4 linked regions of the Homo sapiens genome follow. The protein of the gene in region 4 purifies or fractionates together with the protein of the main gene of each other region. This does not show direct contact. Each region holds a gene or a part of one and is shown on either strand. Other genes may lie near its edges. The genes, in order: SRSF7, NACA, EIF4B and METTL14.

What was found.
Region 1: the proteins of METTL14 (region 4) and SRSF7 purify together in Homo sapiens (affinity purification with mass spectrometry; 2 studies listed by BioGRID and IntAct, with this or other methods). This does not show direct contact.
Region 2: the proteins of METTL14 (region 4) and NACA purify together in Homo sapiens (affinity purification with mass spectrometry, with the first as the bait; 2 studies listed by BioGRID). This does not show direct contact.
Region 3: the proteins of METTL14 (region 4) and EIF4B purify together in Homo sapiens (affinity purification with mass spectrometry; 2 studies listed by BioGRID and IntAct, with this or other methods). This does not show direct contact.

The regions. Positions count from the first base shown.
Region 1 is NC_000002.12:38,748,346-38,755,777, reverse strand, and holds the start of SRSF7 (serine/arginine-rich splicing factor 7), read left to right. Parts: upstream 1-4,416; 5' UTR 4,417-4,521; coding exon 4,522-4,549; intron 4,550-5,583; coding exon 5,584-5,764; intron 5,765-6,072; coding exon 6,073-6,249; intron 6,250-6,431; exon of another isoform or gene 6,432-6,845; coding exon of another isoform or gene 6,846-6,880; intron 6,881-7,124; coding exon 7,125-7,199; exon of another isoform or gene 7,200-7,258; intron 7,259-7,432.
Region 2 is NC_000012.12:56,722,288-56,729,748, forward strand, and holds the start of NACA (nascent polypeptide-associated complex subunit alpha), read right to left. Parts: upstream 3,013-7,461; 5' UTR 2,976-3,012; exon of another isoform or gene 2,675-2,975; intron 2,263-2,674; exon of another isoform or gene 2,237-2,262; 5' UTR 2,235-2,236; coding exon 2,165-2,234; intron 1-2,164. UniProt on the Homo sapiens protein: Cardiac- and muscle-specific transcription factor. May act to regulate the expression of genes involved in the development of myotubes.
Region 3 is NC_000012.12:53,030,441-53,037,463, reverse strand, and holds part of EIF4B (eukaryotic translation initiation factor 4B), read right to left. Parts: intron 3,659-7,023; coding exon 3,430-3,658; intron 2,853-3,429; coding exon 2,755-2,852; coding exon of another isoform or gene 2,740-2,754; intron 56-2,739; coding exon 1-55. UniProt on the Homo sapiens protein: Required for the binding of mRNA to ribosomes. Functions in close association with EIF4-F and EIF4-A. Binds near the 5'-terminal cap of mRNA in presence of EIF-4F and ATP.
Region 4 is NC_000004.12:118,695,372-118,702,394, reverse strand, and holds part of METTL14 (N(6)-adenosine-methyltransferase non-catalytic subunit METTL14), read right to left. Parts: intron 5,214-7,023; coding exon 5,072-5,213; intron 1,846-5,071; coding exon 1,753-1,845; intron 1-1,752. UniProt on the Homo sapiens protein: The METTL3-METTL14 heterodimer forms a N6-methyltransferase complex that methylates adenosine residues at the N(6) position of some mRNAs and regulates the circadian clock, differentiation of embryonic stem cells and cortical neurogenesis.

The sequences.
Region 1 (7,432 bases), on a different chromosome or scaffold from region 4:
GGAGGTGTACCCAACAGCTCATTGAGAACGGGCCATGATGACAATGGCGGTTTTGTGGAATAGAAAAGGGGGAAAGGTAGGGAAAAGATTGAGAAATCGGATGGTTGCTGTGTCTGTGTAGAAAGAAGTAGACATGGGAGACTTTTCATTTTGTTCTGTACTAAGAAAAATTCTTCTGCCTTGGGATCCTGTTGATCTATGACCTTACCCCCAACCCTGTGCTCTCTGAAACATGTGCTGTGTCCACTCAGGGTTAAATGGATTAAGGGCGGTGCAAGATGTGCTTTGTTAAACAGATGCTTGAAGGCAGCATGCTCGTTAAGAGTCATCACCACTCCCTAATCTCAAGTACCCAGGGACACAAACACTGCGGAGGGCCGCAGGGTCCTCTGCCTAGGAAAACCAGAGACCTTTGTTCACTTGTTTATCTGCTGACCTTCCCTCCACTATTGTCCTATGACCCTGCCAAATGCCCCTCTGTGAGAAACACCCAAGAATGATCAATTAAAAAAAAAAAAAAAAAAGAATAGACTATAGGCCAGGCATGGTGGCTCACACCTGTAATCCCAGCACTTTGGGATGCCAAGTTGGGTGGATCACTTTAGGTCGGGAGTTCGAGACCGGCCTGGCCAAGATGGCGAGACCCCGTCTCTACTAATATTACAAAGATTAGCTGGGCATGGTGGCTCATGCCTATAATACTTTGGAGGCTGGGGCACAAGAATCACTTGAACCTGGGAGGCAGAGGTTGTAGTGAGCCAAGATCGTGCCACTGCACTCCAGCCTGGGCGACAGAGCAAGACTCTGTCTCAAAAAATAAAATTAAAAAAAAAAAAAGACTAGTATTTTTTAGCATAGACTACTTATTTATATTAAAAATAGAATATTGGTGTGGCAGAGGGGGAAGTTGGGGTCCAGGAGGCGGAGTCTGAGGTCTGCCCACTTCTTGCCCTGCCTTAAAAACAAAAAAACAAACAAAATAGACTAATGTGCAAAACATTTAAATTTTTTTTCCTTTCTTGTTTTAACGTTTTCACATCCAAGCTCAAATGGTGATAATGACTTAAAAGTGAAACTGAAATGGTGAGAGAAGTACGATTAAAAAGGGAACTTTTTCTTTAATATTTATCTGGAAATACCAAATGTAGAAAATGCAGATACATTTTGAAAACTGCTGTAAAAGGCTTATGAATTACTCCCCTTTCCTAAACTAATAATATTTTTAAAATTTAACAATAGTAACATGTTAATAACTAATATTTCATATTAGGAAATATTACAATATTTGAAGAAAGTAGTTTTCATATTCAAACAATCTGAGAATGTAATCTAAATTTAACAGATTTCTAGAGGCAGAAACTTATGTGGGTGAATGTGATTTCAACAAGAATCAGCAGGAATAAAAGTTCTCTGCACAGTAAAATCTCCCTGATTTGGACTGACATTTAGTGAAAAGAATTGGTTGCCTGTTCTTAGAGAAAGAGTGTTCAGTAGAAAGTAGAATAGTCTATGGAAATAGTATACAGTACTATTATTTTTTCATGGTAACCAGATTAACAAAGCCTGGCCTTGTACTGGCCCTGCTTTCATAGGAATAAACAGTATGTAATTAGCTTATTGAACACCTGTCTGCAAGACAAGCATGTCTGTGAATCAGGATTTGAAAGCAATTGGTTATAAATTTTAAAACTGCTTCTGTTTACTATTACTTGCTTAGAAATTTCTTTAGTACAACTATAGACTTTGTTTTGTTTTGTTGGTAGAGATGGGGGTCTGGTTCTGTTGCCCAGGCTGGTCTCAAAGTCCTGGCCTCAAGATATCCTCCCACCTCAACCTCCCAAAGTGCAGAGATTACCGGCATGAGCCACAAAACCTGACTTAGACTTTGTATTCAGAGTCAAAAAAAGTTTATTGGAAAAAAAAAAGTTTATTGAGGTTTATTAGGAATTATACAGTATAACATGCACTGTCTTTCAAGCAGTTATCTATGCTTGGCTCAACAGTAATTTTCTTTTTTTTTGAGTCGGAGTTTTGCTCTTTTGTTTTGGAGATGGAGTTTCACTCTTGTTGCCCAGGCTGGAGTGCAATGGCGCAATCTCGGCTCCCTGCAACCTCCACCTCCCGGGTTCAAGCAATTCTCCTGCCTCAGCCTCCCAAGTAGCTGGGATTACAGGTGCGCACCACCACGCCTGGCTAATTTTTTGTATTTTTAGTAGAGACGGGGGTTTCACCATGGCCAGGCTGGTCTTGAACTTCTGACCTTAGGTGATCCGCCCGCCTCGGCCTCCCAGAGTGCTGGGATTACAGATGTGAGTCACAGCGCCCGGCCTAGGAGTTTTGCTCTTGTTGCTCAGGCTGTAGTGCAATGGCAAGATCTCAGCTCACCACAACCTCCACCTCTCAGGTTCAAGCGATTCTCCTGCCTCAGCCTCCCGAGTAGCTGGGATTACAGGCATGCGCCACCACGCCCAGCTAATTTTGTATTTTTAGTAGAGACGGGGTTCCTCCATGTTGGTCAGGCTGGTCTCGAACTCCTGACCTCAGGTGATCCGCCAGCTTCAGCCTCCCAAAGTGCTGGGATTACAGGCATGAGCCACTGCGCGCGGCCTCAACAGTAATTTTCATAGCTTCTTAACAGAAGAAAGTCAACTTAGTGAGGCTTTACAGAATTTATATTTTATCTTTCAGATACCATATAATCTTTTTTTTTGAGATGGAGTCTTGCTCTGTCGCCCAGGCTGGAGTGCAGTGGCACGATCTCAGCTCACTGCAACCTCCGCCTCCTGGGTTCAAGCAGTTCTCCTGCCTCAGCCTCCGGAGTAGCTGGGACTACAGGCACACGCCACCACGCCAGGCTAATTTTTTGTATTTTAGTAGGGACAGGGTTTTACTGTGTTGCCCAGGCTGGTCTCAAACTCCTGAGCTCAGGCAATCCGCCCGCCTCGGCCTCCCAAAGTGCTGGCATTACAGGCGTGAGCCACTGCGCCTGGCCCCTATATAGTCTTTATAATTATTGTTTAATTCTTTTGAGAAGAACCTATAGATCTTTATAATTATTGTTTCTTTTGAGAAGAACCTTGTTAAGAAAAAAATCACCAAGACTAAGGGAGAACACATATACTCTACAGAGCTTCTATTTTCTTCTTAGAGATCTTCCTGAGAGAGATTAATTCTCTCCATAACTTAATCAACGTAAAAAATATGCATAAAATCATAGCATGACCTGGAAAGAATCCATGCTTTATTCACCAACTAGGCCTGCTTTCCCTGTACTCTCCATTCCACACCTATACTCACCAAATGAAGTTGCAAAAGACGAAAAAGATAAAAATGCAAATACCTAAATGTCTTTTTTTATGTACATTTCCAACTTTTGTGTATTCCAAGAATTTACGATGTAATGTCTATGTTTCTAGCAAAAAAGAACTTTTTCTCTATTTGTAGTTGGTGTCTAGAGCAATTCTAATGTAAAGAAGTTTTGCATTTATTTGGTACTGTTGAGTGGCTGAGCAGCAAGGCTGCTATTTCCACTGAGTGGAGATACACAAAGATGACTTAGGAGTCCCAGTCCTCAGGATCGGAGTATTGGTGGATCACACGTGTTACAAAGCAGAAAGCATTAGGAAAAGCAAATCAGTTACTTTGAGCTTCAGATGCAAATAATTTCCAAATTGTCACTGGCCAAAATGCTTTAAACATTCAGGGTTTTGTCACAATTTCAATATAAAGGGGGGAGGGGGGAGCGGGACCCCACAGCTCTATTCCTTTGTCTTTCAGACTCCAAGAACTCAGACCGTGGTGGTGCAAACTGGTGACTGGTTCAAAAGAAGTTGGAGGGGGCGTGTAGGACAGGAGGCTTTACCACCAGTCCCAGGGTGCGTCAAGGTCTATGGTGTAAAAACCACTACTCAGAATGGCGGGGTTCATGGACTTTTCACCATGGCCAAACCTTCGATTACCTCTGATGAGCCCCAAAGATCAGAGTAGCTGACTAGGCCAGGTCCCCCAGCAGAAGGGCGCGACGGCTGCAACATCAGCGGTTAAATTGTACAGCCTTTCATAGGCCGGTCTAATGCATCCGTACTAAGATTGTTAAGGCTGAGGGTCCCTAGCCTGGGGAAAAACGAAAGGAGGCAGAGGGTAGGGAGACGGGAAAGAAGACAAGGAGGGTGTAGAAAACGGGGAGAGGAGGGGGCGGGACAGCATGGGGAAGGCCTCAGGTTTACTGGAGAGATCGTGGCGTTCCCATAGAAACGTATCCCTCCGCCCATGACCCGCGTGTTAGTCTCTTCAGTTCCTTCCGCGTCGTTTCTTGGCTGTTTCCGCCCAGCTCCTTTGTGCCGCGCAGAACAACGAGATGACGCATGCGCAAAGCGCAGCGGCCGCATATATAAACGCGAACCCGGGCTCTTCCTCGTAGTGCCGCCGGGACTCTTGGCGGGTGAAGGTGTGTGTCAGCTTTTGCGTCACTCGAGCCCTGGGCGCTGCTTGCTAAAGAGCCGAGCACGCGGGTCTGTCATCATGTCGCGTTACGGGCGGTACGGAGGAGGTAAGAAGCTGGAGTCCGGTGAGGGACGTTGGTGTGGGTGTAGTGAGCACTGCGAGGCCGTAGGGTTGTCGCGGAGGTTGGGAGACGGTTATTCCGCGTGCGTAATGGCGGCTTAGGAGCACGCCAGACGAAGCCGGAGGCAGCGGAGGCGGGGTGCTGAAGGGAGACGGGATGGCGGGTGTACATCTCTGCCGAGTTCCGTACTCTTGGGCATTTTTGTGGCCCAATCCAGCCTAAAGCAGGGTTGAGATGACGGTTTTCGCGTTGCCTTTCTCGGAGCTGCCCGCCGGCCCCCCTCCCCCCCCGCCCTCGGCGGCGGCTGCCATTTTGCGCACATTGAGGACCGTGGTGGCGCATTTCCTCAGCGCTTTCCCGCCACTTCAGCGGACAGATCTGGCCGCAGCTGTAAGATCGTGGTTGTGTTTGAGATAGAACGAAATTGGCAGCTGTGAGCTGCATGTTCTCGTCAAACAATCGGTTAAATTGCGGAATGGGAATGGGGACGTAATCTGCGACTGGCGGCTGGGTTTTTTTTAGTTATTTCCAGCGCGGTTTATGGCTCTGGGGCGGGGAGCTGGAGTCTTGGGCGAGCCTGTGCCTGGGACGTTTGCCGCGGAGGACGAGAGCCGGCGCAGCCCTGCTCTCCTGGCCCGGCCCCTACCGAGGCCCTCCCGCCGCCGACGCCGCTGCCGCTGCGGGCCCGCGCGCTCCCGGTGCGCCCGGGGCTGCCGGGACTCATGGGTGGGGCCGGGCCAGGTTCCGCCCCACGCCTCGGTGTATCCTACCACGCGTTTCTGCTTGTGTTCGGGAGGGTCACCCCGCATTATTTAGAACGTTAAGAATTTTGTCAAAAGTCTAGTTTCTCAGGGATTTGCGGACTTTCACCAGTTTTACGACTAAGTTTTGTCTTGGATAGAGGGCATTAAATGTGCTTTACCCAATCTTGAGGATGGCCCGTTTTAAGGCAAATAAGTAATTGAAACTTGGGCCAGATTTTGCGTAACGTGCATTCTTCTATTTGCGTTTTTAAACAGAAACCAAGGTGTATGTTGGTAACCTGGGAACTGGCGCTGGCAAAGGAGAGTTAGAAAGGGCTTTCAGTTATTATGGTCCTTTAAGAACTGTATGGATTGCGAGAAATCCTCCAGGATTTGCCTTTGTGGAATTCGAAGATCCTAGAGATGCAGAAGATGCAGTACGAGGACTGGATGGAAAGTAAGTAAGATGTTATGAATCTTCTGTTCATTAAAATATACTGTGGCTAGATAATGAACTTAGTGCTAAATTTGGATTCTGAAGTCTGGAAGAGACCTTAAATAGCTGGTCATAGTGTTAAATGCTAAAGGCACACGAAGGTTAAAGAAGATAGCGGAGATGGAGTTAGGGCTTGGTAAAGACCGCCAAAGTTTGTTGGGGGGGAAGGAGTGGTTGGAAAGAGTGAGTGGTTGGAAAGAGTTCTTTTTAAATCTATAAGTCCTGAATATATTTTTAACTTTAGAATTTTGTTAATTTGCTTTTATTAGGGTGATTTGTGGCTCCCGAGTGAGGGTTGAACTATCGACAGGCATGCCTCGGAGATCACGTTTTGATAGACCACCTGCCCGACGTCCCTTTGATCCAAATGATAGATGCTATGAGTGTGGCGAAAAGGGACATTATGCTTATGATTGTCATCGTTACAGCCGGCGAAGAAGAAGCAGGTATTTATTTTAATAAAGGAATGGTTGGTATTCTAGTTAATCAAGTAATTCTTTTATTAGCAAGGCAGAAACTAGTGTTTTTCTATAAACTTGAATGTTAATTGTACAGGTGTATTTTACAATTTTTGTTTAATTAAAAAAATGTTACTATATTAATAATCAACCTGGTCAAAACCTTTCAGGTTTCTTCGTTTGAGTCAGTCGCCTTGATTCAGAATGTCACGAGCCTTATGATATCATGCTGAGGCGCCTTGCAAATCCGACAATTAAGATCCTCCTAGACCTTGAGGTGATCAGCATAAGAGGCCAGATCCCCTCGAGTCATCTACACCTAGCTTCACCTTATTCTTTAAAGGGCAGAAAATTTGAGACGGTGATCGCCGTAACAGTAAATTTGGCTTACAATTGGGGCCCCCCTCCGGTTTAGAAAGAGGAACACCAGATTGACCACATTCCCAACTAGAAAAATCTTCTTGCGTCAATCAAGCCTCACCTGGCTCATTTGGCTGTCAGTTTGATCGTCGTTAGATTGAAGAAAACATCTAGATGCAGCGATCGGCTATAGATACTTCTAGATCGTCTAGATCTACTAGACCATGGGCCAAAGAGGGTCGACCTGCAAACTTGCAAGGTTTATTTTAAATACACATTACAGTGTTTTATATTATGTAATGCTAAGTTGTAATTCAGCTTTTAACAAATCTTTTTTTAGGTAGTAAAAAAAAAAATACTCAACAACTAATAGGCCCAGAGTTTATTTCCAAATGAGACACTAAATTTAAATAGTTTTGAGATTTGATTTCAGCAGAGGCACACAAACTCTTAAAAACGAGTTATTGTCTGACATTTTGTTTTTTCTCTAACTTGAAAAATAGGTCACGGTCTAGATCACATTCTCGATCCAGAGGAAGGCGATACTCTCGCTCACGCAGCAGGAGCAGGGGACGAAGGTGAGATCTTGTTTAACTGAAGTCTTTCTGTATTATTATTAAATTCACTGGTAGTCCAACACAGAAAAAGCTCATTATTTTTTTTGGAGACAGGGTCTTGCTCTGTCACCCGGGCTGGAGTACAGGGGCATAACCACGACTCACTGCTGCCTTGATGATCTCTTGGGTTTAAGCAGTTCTCCTACCTCAGCCTCCCGAGTAGCTGGGACTGTAGGCACTGCCACCATACCCAG
Region 2 (7,461 bases), on a different chromosome or scaffold from region 4:
AGACATGAATTAGACCTCCAGGCAGAGAGCTTACTCACAAGGGTAGGGACTGTATTATGAAACTGTAACCTAACTTGTTAAACCAGATTGTGGTGCTATTTTGGAAGAAGAGAATTGGAGAGCCTGTAACAGTGGCTCATGCCTGTAATCCCAGCACTTCGGGATGCCTGGGAGGGCGGATCACGAGGTCAGGAGTTCCAGACCGACCTGACCAACATGGTGAAACCCCGTCTCTACTAAAAATACAAAAATTAGCTGGGCGTGGTGGTGTACACCTGTAATACCAGCTACTCAGGAGGCAGAGGCAGGAGAATGGCTTGAACCCAGGAGGTGGAGGTTGCAGTGAGCCAAGATCGCGCTACTGCATGCACTCCAGCCTGGGTGACAGGGTGAGACTCCGTCTCAAAACAAAACAAACCAAAGAAGACAATTGGAGTGGCGAGAATACACTGGATCCCCACTCCTTAACTTGGAATTTAAGTGTTTCATTATGTCAAAATACACCAATGTTTGGCATGACAGTAAGACAGTATCTCTGGCATTCAGGAGGTAACACAGAATTGGATCAACAAATGCTCAATGCTTAGAAGGGAATGTTAAGGGGGGCGGGGGGGAAGCCCGTGGTACCAAAATTCAAATTCAAAATTCACTCAACCAGTAATTCTGAAGTTCTTATGGCATCCTACCATGGAAAAGACAAGGTGGCTCAACTAGTTTTTCCTGGAGAGTGGGTAGGCCAAAGTCTAACGATTACAGGAAAACGCTACCAAACATAATGAATCAGAATTAAAAACATGGAATATGTTTTCTTCTGACTGGACCTCAAATGGAATAAGCACTCAAATACTTGCTTTGACACCATCAACAATTCCTTGAGCTTCCTTCTTCATTCTAATAGACTATCATTACAGATAAAACCTTGTGTATTTATCATTGGTACTTCCTTAATATAAGCCTACTATGCAACTCAGACTATTCAGGAATACGTTTAATAGCATTAAGGACTGTTTCAGAAGTAAATGCATTAGTTTTGAAGCTTGAATCAGATTATTCTAAATTCATCTGAATTTCAAATCTTCGTATTTGTAAAATTAAGTTGTTCAATGACACAATCTCTAAAATCTCGTTTTGTACTGAAATTACAGAATCTTTAGAGAACAGTACTTTATTTTTTCCCTTCCTTAAGCCCCTTGTACTTCAAGAATTTCATATTGTTTATACTCCAGCTTAGAGCCCCCTATTGTCCTTCCTAGCAGCTGTATTAATCCCTTCAGCTGTTAAAATCAAACAGGTGGGAAGAAACTTTATGCTTTCAACTATAAGCAACTCTACTGTAACTCCAAAAAGGGACAGGAATTGCCCTTAAATAACAAATGAAATTTAAAAAAAACCAAAAAGGTGAGAATGAAAATTACAGCCTGAAGATTTCCTTCATTTAACGCTGCACAACTGACTCAGAAAGGCTATCATTTTAAGAACTTTTCATTACCTCCTCCTAAGTTTTCTACAGAGATATGTTTTAACCAGAATTTAAAATTAGCCTTCACAGTCGTTAATTTCGACGCTGAGGATAAAAGGATTTATTTCAATCCTGGGTTTCACACAATGATGCAGGAACTATTCCAGCACACTAGAAGTATCTCAGCACCACCAACCCATAAACAAGTTATCCGACCTAGGACGACTCTGGGGCCCAGTAGGACACATTTACCACCAGCACACATCTCATCCAGACATGTGATAAAGGCACAATGCCAAGCTCTGCTAACTAAAACCTTGATGCAACTTGCTGGCTGGAGTTTCACAAATGCTCCGGGCTCCTTGGCCTGTGTCATCTAGTTCCAATAGGTAAGAATCACTGAGCCCATTCCCTGCTGAGTTTTCCTATGTGAGGTGGGGGTTCCACAGGAGAGCTTCTTTTGAGGCGACAGGCATAACATAGAAAGCAAGCTAGGGTACTTTTAACGTCCACGAATCTTAAAAATATTATTTTTACTCCAAATCCCTAAAGAAGTATCTCCAGGATAGTAATTTTACGGTCTATCCTCCTTGGTAAAGCTGCAACCCCATCCTCCTAAAAAGTGTATTTCCCCTTGGTCATTTTGCCCACCAAATGGCTTTAGGGTTAATTTTAATTAATGGCAAGGAGGGTAGGGAAACCTACCTGTCTCAGCCTGGGGCTGCGGCAACTCCTGCTCTGTAGCAGGGACGGTTTCTGTGGCTTCGCCGGGCATTTCTGAAGGAAGGGAATAAAAAGGAGGCCTAAATTGATTGGGATACATTCACTTGCCCAACCCGGAGATAAGTATTCTTAAAAACTCCGAGGAGGGCTGTTAGAAAAAAATCGTGAGGGTGTTTGGTGACAACCTTCCCCAAAGCACCTGGGAATAAGAGGTAAATATGATGTGACCCTCACGCCTCTATCAAGGCCAGCAATTCCCACTGCATTCTCAACCCGAGGGAGAGGATCCCGGGCTGGCTCTCGATCATGGGAGACTTCAGACGCTACTGTGAACCCCCTCCACTCCTAATACTCACACTGGCTGGGCTGGGGCCTCCTGGACTACGTTTGCCGACTTTGGGGTACCAGGAGGGGAAAGACGGTGTTTTAAGTCCAACACTTGCTTGTCACAGGGAGAACGGTGTTACAGGTTCTAAGGCTGTGACCCCTTACCCTTTTCTGGATCCTGTGAAGCAGTTCCCAAAACAAGACGCACTCCTCTTCCGCCCTCAACACTGCAACTGCTCCCATCTCTGCAGGCTCGGATTCTGGGCCCGCCCCGCAGCCCTTCTACCCTGCTTTTGCCAGGACACCAACCGCAGACCCCATTTTGTCCGGAGGCCCAGGGGCGAGTAGGAACCCTGTGGCCCAGTAAAGCCTCCAACTCTCCTTAACTCTCAGTCCCCGGGGCGGCTTAGCCCGAAAGAAAGGCGGATGGCTGCGGATAGACAGTAGCGGCACAGAAAGTACTTACTGTGCAGGGAACGCGGAACCAAGATGGCGGCAGAAAGACCGAGCGAGAGCGTGACCCACGCCTGTTGCAGAAGGAAGCCTGGAGCGGAGGGGGTGGGACTAGGATCCGATTCCGGGTCAAGAGCTGCCGGCAGCCACTTCCTTTGACGAGTGACTGTCAGGCCGTTCCCACGGCGGGGGTGGTGACAAGGACTAAAGGGTAAGAATTTAGAACGGGACGCGCAGGCCTAGCAGGAGCTCTCTGCGCGGACCCACGCAGTCCTCAGAACTAAGCAGACTCCGCCCTCCGGTCCGCGAAGTGGCGACTGCGGTATTAAGTCGACCTCGCGATTTCTCAAATAGTGCAGGAAGAAGACATTAAATAGCGAATGCTAGAGACTGCATTCACAACATTGGAGGGTGGAAGTGACTTAGGCTAACCAGTTATTTTTGGAACACACGATGTGAAAACATTTAAAAGCTGCTGGACCCTCTCCCCCCCCATCAACAACAACAAAAAAACCCATTTTAAAACTTGAGAGATGTGATGGGTCACATATAACTTCAGTTCAGATTATAAATTTAATTCGATTTTTCTTGTTCTGTTCAATGACTAGAGAGACTCAAACGATGTCACCAGATGACAGCAACTCATGCGTGTTAAACTCTTCGTAAAACAATGTTAGCTGTACCCCCGCCCCCCCCCCAAAAAAAACACTTCTTGTAACCAAATTCTGTAATTATGTTCCAACCTTGTATGGATAACGTAATCCAGCTAAAAACTCCTCTGTCTCCCTAAATAAATGAAATCGTAACTTCTCTACTTCTGAAGGCTGACTCCATTCTTTGGAGGTTTTCTGGTTGGTCCATCCTCACACTGCCCTTGAATAAACTCTTTAAATAGATTCCGGCCCTTTTGATTGTTTTAGGTTCACGACAATTTAGCCGATGTTGAAATTATAAAGCTGCAGATTCTCCTTCCCAGAAAAAAAGAACATAGGCACATATACAATTCCTTTGCTTGCTATTTTGGGCACTTCTTGGATTTTTTTTTTTTTTTTTTTGAGTCGCTCTGTCGGCCAGGCTAGAGTGCAGTGGCACGATCTCGGCTCACTGCAATCTCCGCCTCCAGGGCTCAAGCAGTTGTCCCGCCTCAGCCTCCCGAGTAGCTGGGATTACAGGTGTGTGCCACCACCCCCGGCTAATTTTTTATTTTTAGTAGAGACGGGTTTCACCATGTTGGCCAGGCTGGTCTTGAACTCCTGACCTCAGGTAATCCGCCTGCCTCGGCCTCCCAAACTACTGGGATTACAGGCGTGAGCCACCATGCCCAGCCTGTTTGTTTTGTTTTTGGGACAGTCTCACTTTTATTGCCCAGGCTGGGGTGCAAAGGCACGATCTCGGCTCACTGCAACCTCCCCTTCCCGGGTCAAGCGATTCTCCTGCCTCAGCCTCCCGGGTAGCTGGGATTACAGGCATGCGCCACCACGCCAGTCTATTTTTTGTATTTTTAGTAGAGACGGGCTTTCTCCATGTTGGCCAGGCTGGTCTCCTCCTGACTTCAGGTGATCCGCCTGCCTCGGCCTCCCAAAGTGCTGGGATTACAGGCGTGAACTACCGCCCCTGGCACTTCTTGGATATTCTAAGCTTATTTATTCTAGGTGTCTGGGACCCCACCTTAAACCATGCTTTGTACAACTGTATTTTTGAAAAGTAGAATGTAAAATCAGTGTTGTGTTAATGAAAAGCCTCCCATATCTTCCCACAGCCCTACAAAAGAACTCAACAAATATTTGCTGTACCTGAATTAGCTAAACCAGTCAACATTTATTTATTTTTTGAGGCGGAGTCTCGCTCTGTCGCCCAGGCTGGAGTGCAGTGGCGCGATCTCGGCTTACTGCAACCTCGGCCTCCCGGGTTCAAGCGATTCTCGTCTCAGCCTCCAGAGTAGCTGGGATTATAGGTACCCGCCTCCCCGCCCGGACTCCTGACCGTAGGTTATCCGCCTGCCTCAGCCTCCCAAAGTGCTGGGATTACAGGTGTGAGCCACTATGCCTGGCCTGATTTAATAGCTTTAAGACGACTGTGGCCACCTTTTTTTTTTTTTTTTTTTTGAGACGGAGTCTCGCTGTCACCCAGGCTGGAGTGCAGTGGCGCGATCTCAGCTTACTGCAACCTCCACCTCCCGGATTCTGGCAATTCTCCTGCCACAAAACTTCTCCTGTTTCACCGTGTTGCCCAGGCTGGTCTCGAACTCCTGAGCTCAGGCAATCCACCCGCTTCGGCCTCCCATAGTGCTAGGATTACAGGTGTGAGCCACCATACCTGGTGTGGCCGCCTTTTAAGGGAAGCAGTGAAAATTTAAAATGCTTTGAAAGCTACTTTAACATTTCTGAAATCCTTAGCGTAGTGAAATGAGGATTAGGATTGGTGAATTAAAATTAAGTGAGATAGTGGGGTTTACCAGGAATGGGAAATTCTGAAATCCTCCTCAAATAGGAGAGGCAATATTGTGGAGTCATTAAAGACAGACTCTGAAATAAGACTCCTTTGTCTAAATCTATTAGGTCAGTTTAGGCAATTAACCTATATATATATTCATGTCAGTTTCCTGATCTGTAAAATGGGAAAAATAGTAGCTGCTTGATAGGATTGTTTGGAAGATTAAATTAGTCTGTGTGTATATATACACACACACACTCACACTCTAATTGGAAGGAAAAAGAAACAGTCTATCTCATAAAATTATCCCATGTAATCTTTACATAAAACTTAAAAAGTTTGTTACTATTAAATTGTAGACATAATCAATTTCTACCTAATAAATACATGATCTGGAAGATTTTCAATGCAGTCCTTTAGTCCATTTACCTTCAGAAGGACCAGAAATAGCCAATTTCCTTAGACAAAAGTACATATTCACAATTTTTCTTTCTTCCCCAGCAAGCCCACTTACTTTTTCCTCTCTCTGTAGTAATGACTAGCCAAGGAAGGATGTATTTTTTTTTCCTTTTTTTTTTTTGAGACAGGGTCTGGCTCTGTTGCCCAGGCTAGAGTACAGTGGGGTGATTATGGCTCACTGCAGCCTCCGCCTCCTGGGCATAAACGATTCTCCCACCTCAGCCTCCCGAGTAGCTGGAACTACAGGCACACAACACCACACCCAGTTAATTTTTGTATTTTTTGTAGAGACGGGGTTTTGCCATGTTGCCCAGGCTGGTCTTGAACTCCTGGCCTCAAGTGATCTGCCCACTCTGCCTCCTAAAATGCTGGGATTACAGGTGTGAGCCACCACACCCGGCTAGCGTGTTTCTTAAGTTGGCAATTTTGAAGATAGAAGCCATTTCTTTGCCCCTTTGTTTCTACAGTTCTAATATGTGACTGAATTGGCAAATCAAGAAAAGGGGAAGTCAGTAGTCCTTGGGTATATTTTTGCTGTCTTTAAGAACTAAACATTGGCTGGGCGCCGTGGCTCACACCTGTAATCTCAGCAGTTTGGGAGGCCAAGGCAGGTGAACTGCTTAACTCAGGAATTAGAGACCAGCCTGGGTAAGATGGCAAGACCCCGTCTCCACAACAAAATAAAACGTAAGCCTGGCAAGGTGGCGCATATCTGTAGTCCCAGCTACTCCAGAAGCTGAGGCACGAGGATCCCTTGAGCCCAGGAGTTAAGGCACTTCAATGCTAGACATATTTATAAAATGATAATGAAAGCTGAAAATGTCTCTTTTTGAGGCCGGGCGTGGTGGCTCACGCCTGTAATCCCAGCACTTTGGGAGGCCGAGGCGGGTGGATCACGAGGTCAGGAGATCGAGACCATCCTGGCTAACACGGTGAAACCCCATCTCTACTAAAAATACAAAAAATTAGCTGGGCATGATGGCACGCACCTGTAATCCCAGCTACTCACGAGGCTGAGACAGGAGAATGGCGCGAACCTGGGAGGTGGAGTTTGTAGTGAGCCGAGATGGCGCCACTGCACTCTAGCCTGGGCCACAGAGTGAGACTCCGTCTCAAAAAAAAAAAAAAAAAAAAAAGTCTCTTTTTAAAAGCATACCAGTCTTTCCACTCTCCTTCTGAGTTCTTTACTGATTAGTTCTGGAATAATGAGTCTCTAGTAATTTTGTATTCAGGAGTTTTAATCGACCCACTGTTTCTAGAACCTGAAGACTTAATAACCTATAGTACACATAAGCTCAAATAATGAAGAGTTTTTGGGCCAGGTGAGGTGGCTCACACCTGGGAGGCCAAGGCAGGTGGATTGCCCAAGCTCAGGAGTTCGACACCAGCCTGGGCAACATGGTGAAAACCTGTCTCTACTAAAAATACAAAAAATCAGCTGGGCGTGGCGGCGTGCACCTGCAGTCCCAGCTACTCGGGAAGCTGAGGCAGGAGAATCGCTTGAACCTGGGAGGTGGAGGTTGCAGGGAGGCGGATTGCTCCACTGCACTCCAGCCTAGATGACAGAGTGAGACTCTGGCTCAAAAACAAACAAATAAACAAACGAA
Region 3 (7,023 bases), on a different chromosome or scaffold from region 4:
TCCTTATTGAGTGTTTCATTTTCTAGAGACTTCTCACTCTCTCTCCTTCGTGCATCTGTGAAGCCAGAGTGAAAATATCAAATTATCAGGCTGCAGATGCTCACGCATCTACCAGGATCTCAACAGTGTGGAAAATGGTCCACATCCAAGTTTTGGCTCCCAAAGATGGATTTATCCCTAAACCAGTGGTTTACAAGTATTTCCAGAACAATGTCTTACTGATGCACAGAGAAATAGAAAAAATAATGACCATGTATACAACTTAAGGGACACCCAGCCATGTGACCTTTTTAGGAATGAGTATCCTTTACAGCCTTTCTGCATTCTCAATGTTAAAAGTGTCTTGACCTGGAGAATATACATATGTGAAGAGGACCTACAATGAAACCCCAAACTCTAGTAACCACTGCTCAACTTCAGCTTAAAACTCAACACACATGGACTATGATGCAATCATATTTATGAAAAACCACCTACTGGCTGGGTGCAGTGGCTCTCGCCTGTAATCTTAGGATATTGGGAGGCTGTTGGGGGCGGATCGTTTGAGCCTAAGAGTTTCAGACCAGCCTGGACAACATGGTGAAACCCCAGCTCTACAAAAAATAGACAAATTAGCTGGATGTGGCATGTGCCTGCAGTCCCAGCTACTAGAAATGATGAGGTGAGCTGTGATCATGTTGCTGCACTCCAGCCTGGCTGACAGAGTGAGACTCCATCTCAAAAAACAACAACCTACACGTGCGTTTTTTAAAAAATGCAGTTAAGTGTCTTCTAAAAACAAGGAGCCCCCATTGGGAGGCTGAGGCAGGATTGCTTGAGGCCAGGAGTTTGAGACCAGCCTGGGGAGTGTAGTGAGACCCCATCTCTAAAAAAACAAATTTTTTAAATTTAGCCAGGCATGGTTGCGTGCACCCGTCGTATAACAGCTACTTGGGATATTGGGGCAAGAGGATTGCTTGAGGCCAGGAGTTTGAGGCTGCAGTGAGCTATGATCGCACCACTGCACTCCAGCCTGGGTGAGAATGAAACCCTGTCTTAAAAATAAAAAACTAGGCCGGGCACGGCGGCTCACGCCCGTAATCCCAGCACTTTGGGAGGCCAGGGCGGGCAGATCACAAGATCAAGAGATGGAGACAATCCTGGCCAACATGGTGAAACCCCGTCTTTACTAAAAATACAAAAAATTAGCCAGGCCTGGTGGCAGACTCCTGTAATCCCAGCTACTCGGGAGGCTTGGGCAGGAGAATCACTTGAACCCGGGAGGCAGAGGTTGCAGTGTGCTGAGATCATGCCATTGCACTCCAGCCTGGGCAAAAAGAGCGAAACTCCGTCTCAAAATAAATAAATAAAATACAAAAATAAAAAATAAAAAAAATAGAAGGCCAGGCATGGTGGCTCACGTCTGTAATCCCAGCACTTTGGGAGGCCGAGACGGGTGGATCATGAGGTTAGGAGTTTGAGACCAGCCCGTTCAAAAAATTAGTCGGGCATGGTGGCGCTCACCTGTAATCCCATCTACTCAGGAGGCTGAGGCAGGAGAATTGCTTGAACCAGGGAGTCAGAGGTTGCAGTGAGCCAAAATCGTGCCACTGCACTCCAGCCTGGTAACAGAGCGAGACTCCATCTCAATAAATAAATAAATGAATGAAATGCAAGTACAAATCAATTTAGAGGTGGGAGGAAAGACCTTAAAAAATATCACAGTGGCTGGCCCTTGGAATCCCAGCACTTTATGAGGCTGAGACCAGCCTGGGCAACATGGGGAAACCATCTCTACAAAATTTTAGCTGGGTGTAGGCTGGGTGCGGTGGCTGACGCCTGTAATCCCAGTACTTTGGGAGGCCGAGTCGGGTGGATCATGAGGTCAGGAGATTGAGACCATCCTGGCTAACACAGTGAAACCCCATCTCTACTAAAAATACAAAAAATTAGCTGGGTGTGGTGGTGGGCACCTGTAGTCCCAGCTACTCGGGAGGCTGAGGCAGGAGAATGGCATGAACCCGGGAGGCAGAACTTGCAGTAAGCCGAGATCGCGCCACTGCACTCCAGCCTGGGCGACAGAGCGAGACTCGGTCTCAAAAAAAAAAGAAAATAAATAAATAAAAAATTTAGCTGGGTGTAGTGGTGCATGCCTACAGTTCCAGCTACTAGGGAGGCTGAGGGCTGAGGGAGGTGAGGCTACAGTGAGCCATCATCATGCCACTGCACTCCAGCCTGTGTGACAGAGTAAGACCCTGTCTCAAAACAAAATACAAAAAAAACACATCATGGTAAGGGAAGGGAGGTATTACAATTGAACCATTTAGGTTTCCAAAACACTAAAAGTGCTTGATCAACCAGTAATAACACTGCTTGAGAACACTGCTCTGGTGATGATAACATCAAAAAAGGCTGGTCTTGGGACAGCTCACATGAAACTCCAAGCCGTTGACTGTTCTGAATAAACAACATTCAAAGATGTCAAGACATAAAATGAAAATATACCAAAAAAAAAAAAAAAAAAAAAAGAGAGAGACAAACCTAACAACCAAGTATACACTTCAGTGGTAGATTATTAAGCAGATCATCTAGGTCTACTCTGGTACCCATTCCTCAGATTCTTTGGAGCAGAAGATATGAAACTCCAATCGGCCCATGCAACCCAAATAAAGAGTTCATGACTGAATTTAAATATTGCAGGGTCTCTGCATAATTTGGTTATGGATAGTTTATGGAAAACGGCAATAACACGATACCCACCCTGGTCTGACTTACTTCTGCTAGATGTGGTGGAGGTCCCAGTTTGTGATGACTCACTTCCTGTCCTCGACCGTTCCCGTTCCTGAGTTTCTTCACTTCGCCAGCTTGGGTGTCTGTACGAGAGATTCACAAAATACACATTATGCCTGGCTCAGTGAAGGCCACCTTAGACCCATGCTGACCCCTCAAGAACCATCACTTACTTCATCTATATGTGTATATGCATATAAATTTATCTTTCCCTCAAACTATTTGAAAGCTACAGACATTAAGACACACTTTGGCCCTAAATACTTCAGCAAGAATCAACTAATATGGTTAAGAACAGTATCCTACATAATCTACAATACTGCCCTTCTTTACTAATCAACACAGTTCTACAAGCCACTCATTACCAGGCCTAGTTTTTCAGGGCAATTACTTATTATAGTAGGTCTCTAGCCTTTTAGATACAATACCAGCTTTTAATAGTAAACACTTTTGTAATGGACAGGGAACAACTCTTCATTGTGTAAAACTGTCCCTAACACTGCATACTGCCTAACACCCCTGGCCACAGCCCACTAAATGCCCATCAGTGACAACCACTAATGTGATAACGACACAAATTTCCCAAATGCCCCTGGGGATGTAATGCCCCCATTACGAACCACCGGATTCCTAGATGGGATATCCATCAAGACAACACACCTCTCCCGAGGCCGTCGTTCTAGTTTTGGCTCATCCAGCTGACGCTGCAACTTCTCTTGTTCCTTCTGTAGCCGTTCTTCTACTTCTCTTTCTCTAGCAGCTGTGTCAACAGGCTTTGCCCCTCCAAAGATAGAAGCAGCTCGAGTGGACTGGGAGGTACTAGCAGAGGAATCATCTTCCTTAGGAGTACTCCGAGGCTTTAGATTCAGTTTGGGTCTTTGGGGGGGACCTAAGTTAAATGAAACTTTAAGTAATAGTTTTCCAATCACCAGAAGCTGATGGCTGAAAGCCAGATTTCTCAGATATAACTCCTATGAAATGCTACATGAGATTCAAGTTAGTGGCCTAACCAATCCACAGAAGGCAAATAGATCATTAGAAAACAGGTAGTTTAGGCTGGGCATGGTGGCTCACGCCTGTAATCCCAGCACTTTGGGAGGCCGAGGCGGGTGGATCACAAGGCCAAGAGATCGAGACTATCCTGGACAACATGGTGAAACCCCGTCTCTACTAAAAATACAAAAATTAGCTGGGCGTTGGGGCGCGCACCTGTAGTCCCAGCTACTCAGGAGGCTGAGGCAAGAGAATTGCTTGAACCTGGGAGGCAGAGGTTGCAGTGAGCCAAGATCGAGCTACTGCACTTCAGCCTGGTGACAGAGCAAGGCTCCGTCTCAAAAATAAAAAAAAGAAAAAAAAAAAAGAAAATAGGTAGCTCAGGCTGGGCGTGGTGGCTCACGTCTGTAATCCCGATACTTTGGGAGGCCGAGGCGGGTGGATCACCTGGGGTCGGGAGTTCGAGACCAACACAACCAACATGGAGAAACCCCGTCTCTAGTAAAAATAAAAAATTAGCCAGGCATGGTGGTGCATGCCTATAATCCCAGCTACTCGGGAGGCTGAGGCAGGAGAATCGCTTGAACCTGGGAGGCAGAGGTTGTGGTGAGCCAGGATCGCACCACTGCACTCCAGCCCTCCAGGCTGGAAAACAAAAGCAAAACTACGCCTAAAATAAATAAATAAAAATAAATAAAAATAAAAATAGGTGGCATAAATAACCAAGTTCTGGCCGGGCGCAATGGCTCACGCCTGTAATCCCAGCACTTTGGGGGGCTGAGGCGGGCGGATCACCTGAGATCAGGAGTTCGAGACCAGCCTGACCAATATGGAGAAACCCCATCTCTACTAAAAATACAAAATTAGCCAGGAGTGGTGGCACATGCCTGTAGTCCCAGCTACTCAGGAGACTGAGGCAGGAGAATCGCTTGAACCCACCGGGGAGGCGGAGGTTGCAGTGAGCTGAGAACACACCACTGCACTCCAAACTGGGCAACAAGTGCCAAACTCCATCTCAAAAAAAAAAAAAAACAAAAAAACCCAAGTTCAATTACTCTTCTACCACATCCATGATGTAGTACAAGACCACAGGAAAGACTAAAAATGGTAAACATTTAAGTAATAAATTAATAATCTATCAAGACTTCTTTTATATGGGAAGAAATTTTTGACCATCATTAAACTACTGGATGAAAGTATCTTGCTCCGAAATCTGCATGTTAAGAACTAATACAATATGATAGGGAAGATTCTAGTTCTTTATTTTTTTTGAGACAGTCTCGCTCTGTCACCCAGGCTGGAGGGCAGTGGTGTGATCTCAACTCACTGCAACCTCTGCCTCCCTGATTTTCCTGCCTCAGCTTCCTCAGTAGCTGGGAGTATAGGCACGTGGCACCATGCCCAACTAATTTTTGTATTTTTAGTAGAGATGGGGCTTCACCATGTTGGCCAGGCTGGTCTTGAACTCCCGACCTCAAGTGATCCGCTTGCCTTGGCTTCCCAAAGTGCTGTTACAGATGTGAGCCACCACGCCCAGCCAGGAAGACTCTAGATCTTATACCCTTGTCTCTGTGTATAATATAAATTTGGCAGGTGGTTCATGGGGCAAAGCATGTAACACTGAACAAATAAACTCTTAAGGCAGGCAGTCTGATTTCTTCCTCAATTCAAGTTGTCAGAACACTTTCAAGAGAAACCTAAGTGTTTCAAGGAAGTTAAATTTCTAAAAATGATTGTTTGTCCTAAATATTTTGGATATACAAAAGATACAGAGAATATAAAGAAAGCCTATGTATACAATCACCTGGCTTAAGTAATGTAACCTTAACAAAGAGGTAAAACCTCCTGATGACATGACCAGCTGTACTCTGTCCTCTAAATAACCACTAGATGGTGACTTCATCATGCCCACACTTGATTTTATACTTTTACTACATATGCACATAGTACCTGTAGATAGAGGGTACTGTTTAACAAGATCTAAATTTTCTACGAGGGCTTTAAGCCGACAGTTTATATATGTTCCTAAACATATTTTAAATCTGTGTTATAGCCCCGTCACTTTTGTAAGATAAAATAGGGGCTCAGAAAAAGTAGCTCATTTAAGATATTAATAAAAGAACGCAGCCGGGCACAGTGGCTCACGCCTGTAATCCCAGCACTTTGGTAGGCCGAGGGCAAGTGGATCACTTGAACTTGGAAGTTTAAAACCAGCCTGGGCAATGTGGAGAAACCCCATCTTTAGAAAAAATATCAAAATTAGCCAGGCATATGGCACGCACCTCTAGTCCCAGCTACTGGGGAGGATGAGGAAGGAGGATCACTTGAGCTCAGAAGGCTGAGGCTACAGTTAACCATGATTATGTCACAGCAATTCTAGCCTGGGCGACAGAGTGAGATCCTGTCTCAAGAAGAAAAAAGTAAAGGCTGGGCAAACAGTGAAGGCCCGTGTATGTCAGAGGTATAGAGAAAGGGCTATGTTCCAGGCCATGGGGAAACTAGACAGGTCTAAACAGGAGAATAAGGTAATTAGATCTTATGCCAGAAAGACAACTGACAACTGGGGCCAATGTGAAGAACGGAGCAAGAAAGGGAACTCTGTTAGGAGGCAATGGCCAGTAACGTGGGTGCAGCAATGAGGCCTCAACGAAGGTAGCAGCAGCAACTAGAGACAAGAGGGCAAATCTTAGAGGGAATGGGGGGGTAAGAGCAAGAAGAGAAATAAAAAATTAGGTATGCAGCTCTTGGTGGGGAGGTAAGGGACAGTGTGAGAGAGGAAAAGGTCAGAAGTCAAGGAGAACATGAGGCCCACATCTGAGCCTCCACTTTTCTAACTTGTAATTTTACCTATACCACACAGAAGTCTTAGAATTAAACAATACTTGTACAAGCCCTCAGCTCACTGATGGAACAGAGTAAATGGTTAATAAATGTTAGCTATTATTTTTAGGCTTCTTGCTTGAGGAAATCGCTTTTAAGAACGTAGTTTTTTCACTGGGCGCAGTGGCCCACGCCTGTAATCCCAGCACTTTGGGAGGCCGAGGCGGGCGAATCACAAGGTCAAGAGATCCAGACCATCCTGGCCAACATGGTGCAACCCCGTCTCTACTAAAAATACAAAAATTAGCCGGGCGTGGTGGCAAGCCCAGCTACTTGGGAAGCTGAGGCAGGAGAATCACTTGAACCTGGGAGGCAGAGGTTGCAGTGAGCCGAGATCGCGCCATTGCACTCTAGCCTGGGCAACTAGAGAGAGACTCCGTC
Region 4 (7,023 bases):
TTCTACATGCCCTAATCCACTAATTTATCAAAATCTCATGAGTATTTCTCATGCTGAATTATTTTTTAAATCATTTTTCGCCGAACTCTCACCAGTATGATAAACTGCTACATTAAGTAAATAAGATAAAAACCTCCTGGATGGCTACTCAGGAGGCTGAAGCAGGAGAACTGCTTCAACTGGGAAGCAGAGTTTTGCAGGGAGCCAAGATCGCACCACTGCACTCCAGCGTGGGCGACAGAGCAAGGCTCTGCCTCAAAAAAAAAAAAAAAAAAAGATAAAAACCTTCTAATCATTTTCAATCTAATTTGGGGAATGAAAGGAAAGATCAAAGTCAGATATTAAAGTTAAAACAAAGTAAACACCAATATACCTATAAAAACATGTATGTTTCGCTCTTACTTTTCTATAGCATCTTGAAGAGCCAACACCAAAAAAATGGAGATATCCAACTGAAACACAGTTATAGTTTACCTTGGAGTTAATAAATGATGGAAGCAATGATGTTACCCAACAGCCTTACTATTTATATAAAGAATATACAGTAATTGTAGAATTTCAGAATTTGGGCACAATCTTATTTCCATATAATCATACTTATTATCTCATATAATCCTACTTAAATTTTTCAATTGTCAAATGGATACCTCCCCAAATTGGAATCATTAAATGAGATAGTTTGGTGTATAATAAATAATATGTCATAAAAACGAAGTGTCAACCAATAAAATGTGACAAAATTGAGACCCTCAAGAGTGAGTATCTTTTTGCCCAAAGTCTTACTGTTACAGCATAGCAGCTGAATTGAGAGCAAAATTAAGACTCCTGATACCTAGTCATAATACTGTTGTTATTCTTGTTTAAAACAGCATATATATTATTTTGTTCCTTTTGGTGAAGGCCAATCAGGGCCAGGGGTGGTGGCTCATGCCTGTAATCCTAACACTTTGGGAGGCTGAGGTGGGAGGATCCCTTGAGCCCAGGAGTTTGGGGCCAGCCTGGGCAACATAACAAGACCTCATCTCTACAAATACTAAAAAAATTAGCCAGGGGTGGTGGTGTGCCTGTGGTCCCAGCTATTAGGAGGCTGATGTGGGAAAACTGCTTGAGTTGAGTCCAGGAGGTCGAGGCTACAGTAAGCCACAATTGTGCCACTGCACGCCAGCCTGGGCAACAGAGTTGGTACCTTGTCTCAAAAAAACAAAAAAAAACAAAAAAAAACTCCAATAAAAAAATAAAAATAAAAAAGCTGTGAAATACAATTAAATATCAGATACTTAAAATAAGTTCAGGTATTATAACTTCTTTCTCATTCATTCATGTCTTCCATATGCTGTGTTACTTTTCCAATTTTATTTGACTTCCATTTGGATTTCAGGAGCCAATGCTCCTGAATACTTTTAGCTACTCATAGAACACTTTTTAGCTACTCATAAAGAATTGTAAATGATACCAAGCAGCTCATTTTTGAGGTATAATTTGGAGTTTCAAATCTTTAAGCTGTTCTCTTCCTGTACTTGTAATGAAGTGTCTTTTGAAAGAGCTACACATTCCTCCCTAGTGCTGGTAAACTAACTTACAAGTATTGCCTTTCTTACGTTCTTTTCTGGACATTTTTTTTTTCTCACTATTTTAGAATTATTTAAGAAACAAAGGACAAAATAACATCCACTTTCAAACATCCTATGCAACATACTGTTACATTTTTTTCTTATTAATTTAAAAATCCACTTTATAAAAGCACCATCTTACCACTCTTCCAAGGTCCAACCCCTCCCCAGAACCACACCAGAGAAAAATAAATGATCGAGGTGCTGCAATCTCATCAATTTCTAACTTCATAATCTGTAAGAAATCAAAACGATATTGCATAAAAGTATTTTGTTTCCCATTCATCCTAAATCCAAAAGAACAACAATTAAGATTTATTAGGATAGATGTGTTCTTTAAGTGTATTAGTTTCCATTAGGAACTAACAGAAAATAAATGTTATCCTTAAAATTACTCGTTCTATTGTTTTGTTACTTTATATACAAACAACATACACACCTGTGCACATATATACATATATACACTTGCTGTTATATGGAAAGAGCTTATAGGAAACAATAGCTATAGACTTATGCAATCTTTTAAGATGGAGCTTGAGACAGATTCTCCAGCAATCTTTTATCATTTACTGAAAAAGAATGAAGCACTTAACTAAGCCCAATGTTAGGGACAAAATTAAAATTAAAATATAACAATAAATGTTTCGGGAGGACTGTGATATCCAGTGTCTACAGAAGAACTTCTCAATAAATCAATATACATATTTTGCTACGATTACTACTTTGAGTCTCAAATGCCAAAAAAAAAAAAATTATTCTCTTTTGACACTAATTCTAAAAGTTAAGTGTTGGTACTTTAATGCTTGTGTTCTTAAGTAAAACACAATGACCACTACCGACTCTCTAACATGAAAAAGAATACCTGTGAAACCCAAACATTTTTCTTATTTACATTTTGTTTATTACATTAACTACTGGCACTTCCTTCAGGACGGTATCTCATAAAAGTTAAAGAACTTAGGGCTCTGGGGCCAGACAAAATTTTTCAGTATGCCAGCCAGAGTTGAAGTACAGTGAAATTAAACTGAAATCAAGAATTTGCATATAAAATAGAATTTCTTTATTTTAAAAACTGTATTAGTTTATCACATATAATTGAAGTTCTTGTACCTTCACTGCTGAAACCTCACGGATTGGCTAGAGAAAACAAAATTCTGCCTAATTATTAATAAAGAACATAATCAGATTCATTGTTTAAATTTTTTCTTTTGAGCAAACTGATAAAAAATGGTTTTTAATATTAATATTCAACTTTAATGAGGATATGGCTAACTAGACATTCTTAAACACTACTGAAAGGAATGTAAATTTATACCTATCTGGAAAACTTCTCTGCAAGAAATATCAAGAGCATTAAGTCTCTAATCTTAAGTCTTAGAAATACCACATTCTGTGCACTTTTCTGATTTTTCAACAATAAACACAGATAACACTTTAAACAGGGAAGGGGAAAAACTTTTACATTATAGGAGCCATACAAATATAAATAAAAGTGCTAGGAGTATTAAAGCTAATAGGAAAAGTTTCAAGGAAGAGGAAGAATTAGAGGTAAATCTTGGAAAAATAGATATTATTAAGAGTAGTAACTACCATTAACTCAGAAAGGGACATGCAAAGATTCTAATCCGTTTCCTAAGAAACACGTCTTCCAGTTTCAGTCCTTTCCTTGCCCCACATCTTTTCTAGAAATGCAGAACGGTCCTGATTACACTCTCCTTGAAACTCACTGTTCCCTTGGTTTCCATTACATTCATACTCTCCTGGTTCTCTTCATTCATCACTGAACAACTCGTTTTTAAATTTCTTTTATATGTAGTCTTTAAATGTAAATGTTTTCCCGGCTTTACTGTCAGTCCACATTTTTATCCTGAGACACGATCCCAGGATAAACTCATCTATTTACATGGATTTTATGTGATAATCCTCTAAAATATGTATTTTGAAACCAGATCTGCCTGTCCTTAGAGTTTCATATTTTATTCCTATGACCTCTTCCATTTGAATGTCTCACATATACCTAGAAATCAACTTGTTCAGTATTATTTAACCTCTCTAATCCTGCTCATCTTCTGAAACTCACTCTCAGTTGGTGATAATTCAATCCACCTATCCCAAGATAGAAACCCTGAGTTATCCTTAACTCTTCCCCTCATCCCAATCACTCAATCTTACTAAATCTACCTCCTAAACATTGCTGAATGTATCACCTTCTTTCCATTCCTACTATTACCCTAATTCAGCGTCCCTTCATCTCAGCATTAGGTTACTCTAAGAAAGAGTCTTCTAATTGCTCTCCTTTTTCCAAAATTTTTTTTTTTTTTTTTTTTTTTTTGAGACAGAGTCTTGCTGTGTCGCCCAGGCTGGAGTGCAATGGCGCAATCTTGGCTCACTGCAACCTCCGCTTCCCGGGTTCAAGCTATTGTCTTGCCTCAGCCTCCCGAGTAGCTGGGATTACAGGTACGTGCCACCACACCCGGCTAATTTTTGTATTTTTAGTAGAGATAGGGTTTCACCATGTTGGTCAGGCTGGTCTCTAACTCCTGACCTCGTGATCCACCCTCCTCGGCCTCCCAAAGTGCTGGGATTACAGGCATGAGACACCACACCTGGCCATTTTTCCAGAATTCTTTCCCAGACTCTAGCCCAGCTTCCAAACACCAATCTGACCTTTTTACTAAACTGGTTAAAACTCTTCAGACTTATTAACGTCTTCAGAATAAAAGTCCCAACTCCTAACACATCACCTCAAGATAGTCCCAATCTGTGTTCCAACAATACCAACCTACATACAGGACCTCCACCCCACAACCAGATAGTCGTTTGCCTCCATCCCCTCTGTTCTTGTTGTTCCTTCTGCTTGTAACCGCCGTCCCACATCTTTCTTGGCTAATTCCAACTAATCTATTTATATTGTTCAGGTGTCACCTCCTCTATGTTCCTATGTCCCATCTACCCAGGACTGGTCAGTTGCTCTCATGTCATCTTATGCAGGACTCCATCGTTTAATCAACAAAATTGTAATTATGTGTCCATACAGGGTGTTTATCCATACTTTACTACACTGTAAGCTGTTTAAAGAGTAGAAATCATGTTTTTATATACATAAACAAGCTCTGATGTTTACTGAAACTAATCAAATGCAGAATGAATTATGAATCATTCCATCTGTTTTTAAACTTCTCTAACTATATAGCCAAGGACTCTAAGACCAAAATTTTAAGTCTTCTACAGCCTATTCACTTGCTATCTGCTCAATTTTTGCCTTGAAAAGAAGGCTCAAATTAAAGATAATGTAATATTAGTCAATGTACCTTGGACCTTCAGCTATAATTTACACTATAAATCTACATTTATAATCCCTACAAAAGTAGGGATGATATTTATTATCTCACTTTCTGACCAAATAAACATATTCATTTGAAAATAAATAATTCATTACAATGTAGAAAGTTTGATCATACATCATCCCAAGTCCAGCATTTTTCATTAGCAGTGATGCCAGTTTCTCTGTAATATTCTTCTAAAGGGGGTTCCAGAAGAATCACATCAAATTTGGGTGTTAGTTCTCTGATGTCAAAGGCTTCTATATCGGCTTGTAAGTACCTATTTGATTAAAGCATTAAAAATGAGGTTTTTAAAAAAATGCTTTTTAAATAAGATTTTCAAGTACCTTAACAGATGGTAATGAAAGAAATGTCTTAGATATCACTAAACATTATTACTAAACACTATTTACAAAGTAATCAGTAACCTAATTACTAAAGGCCTTTTTATTGAGTCTTTTTTTCTTCAGTATAGACTTAAACGATCTACCAGTGATCTTTCTTAAGACATGAACGTAATTAAACTACATAGTAAAAGTCCTATTTTCCCCATGTACACCCAGAATATATTCTTCTCTCAATATTAAAAATCCATACTCAGATGTGTCTCTGAACCCCTTTCCCTTCTCATCTGAATTTTCTAAGGAATATCACATTGTTTTATTCTCAATTGTTCAGTTAGAAAACCCATTTCTCTGTAAGCTTTAAATTCTTCCCCCAAAACATAGTTTTCATATAGTTTTCTTTTATTAGTTTTTTCATTAGTAAAAATGTTTCTATTAAGAGTCTTTTCATGCTACCTAATATAAGTTATTACTGGCCTTTACTGAAAAGTTATTGTCACATAGCATGAAAATATTTTAAATTTAAAATACTTTAAATGTAAATGGGTTTTCGTTTGTTTGTTTGTTTGTTTGTTTGAGACAAGGTCTCACTATATTGCTCAGGCTGAATGCAGTGGCTATTCACAGGCCTGATTATACAGTACTACAATCTCAAACTCCTGGGCTCAAGTGATCTTCCCACCTTAACATCTCATTAAAGGTGTATTTTAGGCCAGGCATGGTGGCTCATGCCTATAATACCAACACTTTGGGAGGCCAGCGTGGGAGGATCAATTGACCCCAGGAGTTTGAGACCAGCCTGGTCTCAAAATAGAGACAGTGAGACCCTGTCTCTATTTAAATAAATAAATAAGTAAATAAGCAAGAAAGTAAAGGTGTATTTTAAAATACGATGAATATTAGAGTATACTTAGACTTCCTCTCCACATACTAAAACATTCTGTGGTGCTTCTAATGACTTACAGAATACAATTTTTTTTTTTTTTTTTTTTTTTTTTTTGAGACAGAGTCTCACTCTGTTGCCAGGCTGGAGTGCAGTGGCACAATCTCGGCTCACTGCAAACTCCACCTCCTGGGTTCAAACTCCACCTCTTCTGCCTCAGCCTCTGCCTCCCGAATAGCTGGGACTACAGGTGTGCGCCACCACACCCAGCTAATTTTTGTATTTTTAATAGAGACAAGGTTTCACCATGTTGGCCAAGACGGTCTTGATCTCTTGATCTAATGATCCGCCCACCTCAGCCTCCCAAAGTGCTGGGATTATAGGTGTGAGCCACCGCACCCGGCCCAAAATACATTTTATCATATCATTAAATGTACAAAACCTTCAAAGCTAAATTCTCCAATTTCAAAGATCTCATATACATTTCTGAGGAAAACATTATTCTGCTTAGCAACGGTTGAAATGAATTATCATATTCCAAATTGTTAAGAATAGTATCTCAGAATGCTAAGCTGTAATTAATATTTGTTTTCTTCCTTTCCTGACTCTAAGTTTTCTAAGCTTCCTTTAACAAACAAATTACTTGACAAGAAGTCATTTAAAGGCATTTTAAGTAAGCTATCAAGAATACGGAGTCTCACTCCGTCACCCAGGCTAAAGTGCAATGGTGCGATCTCGGCTCACTGCAACCTCTGCCTCCTAGATTCAAACGATTCTACTGCCTCAGCCTCTCGAGTAGCTGGGATTACAGGCGTGCACCACCATGCCCAGCTAATTTTTGTATTTTTAGTAGAGACAGGGTT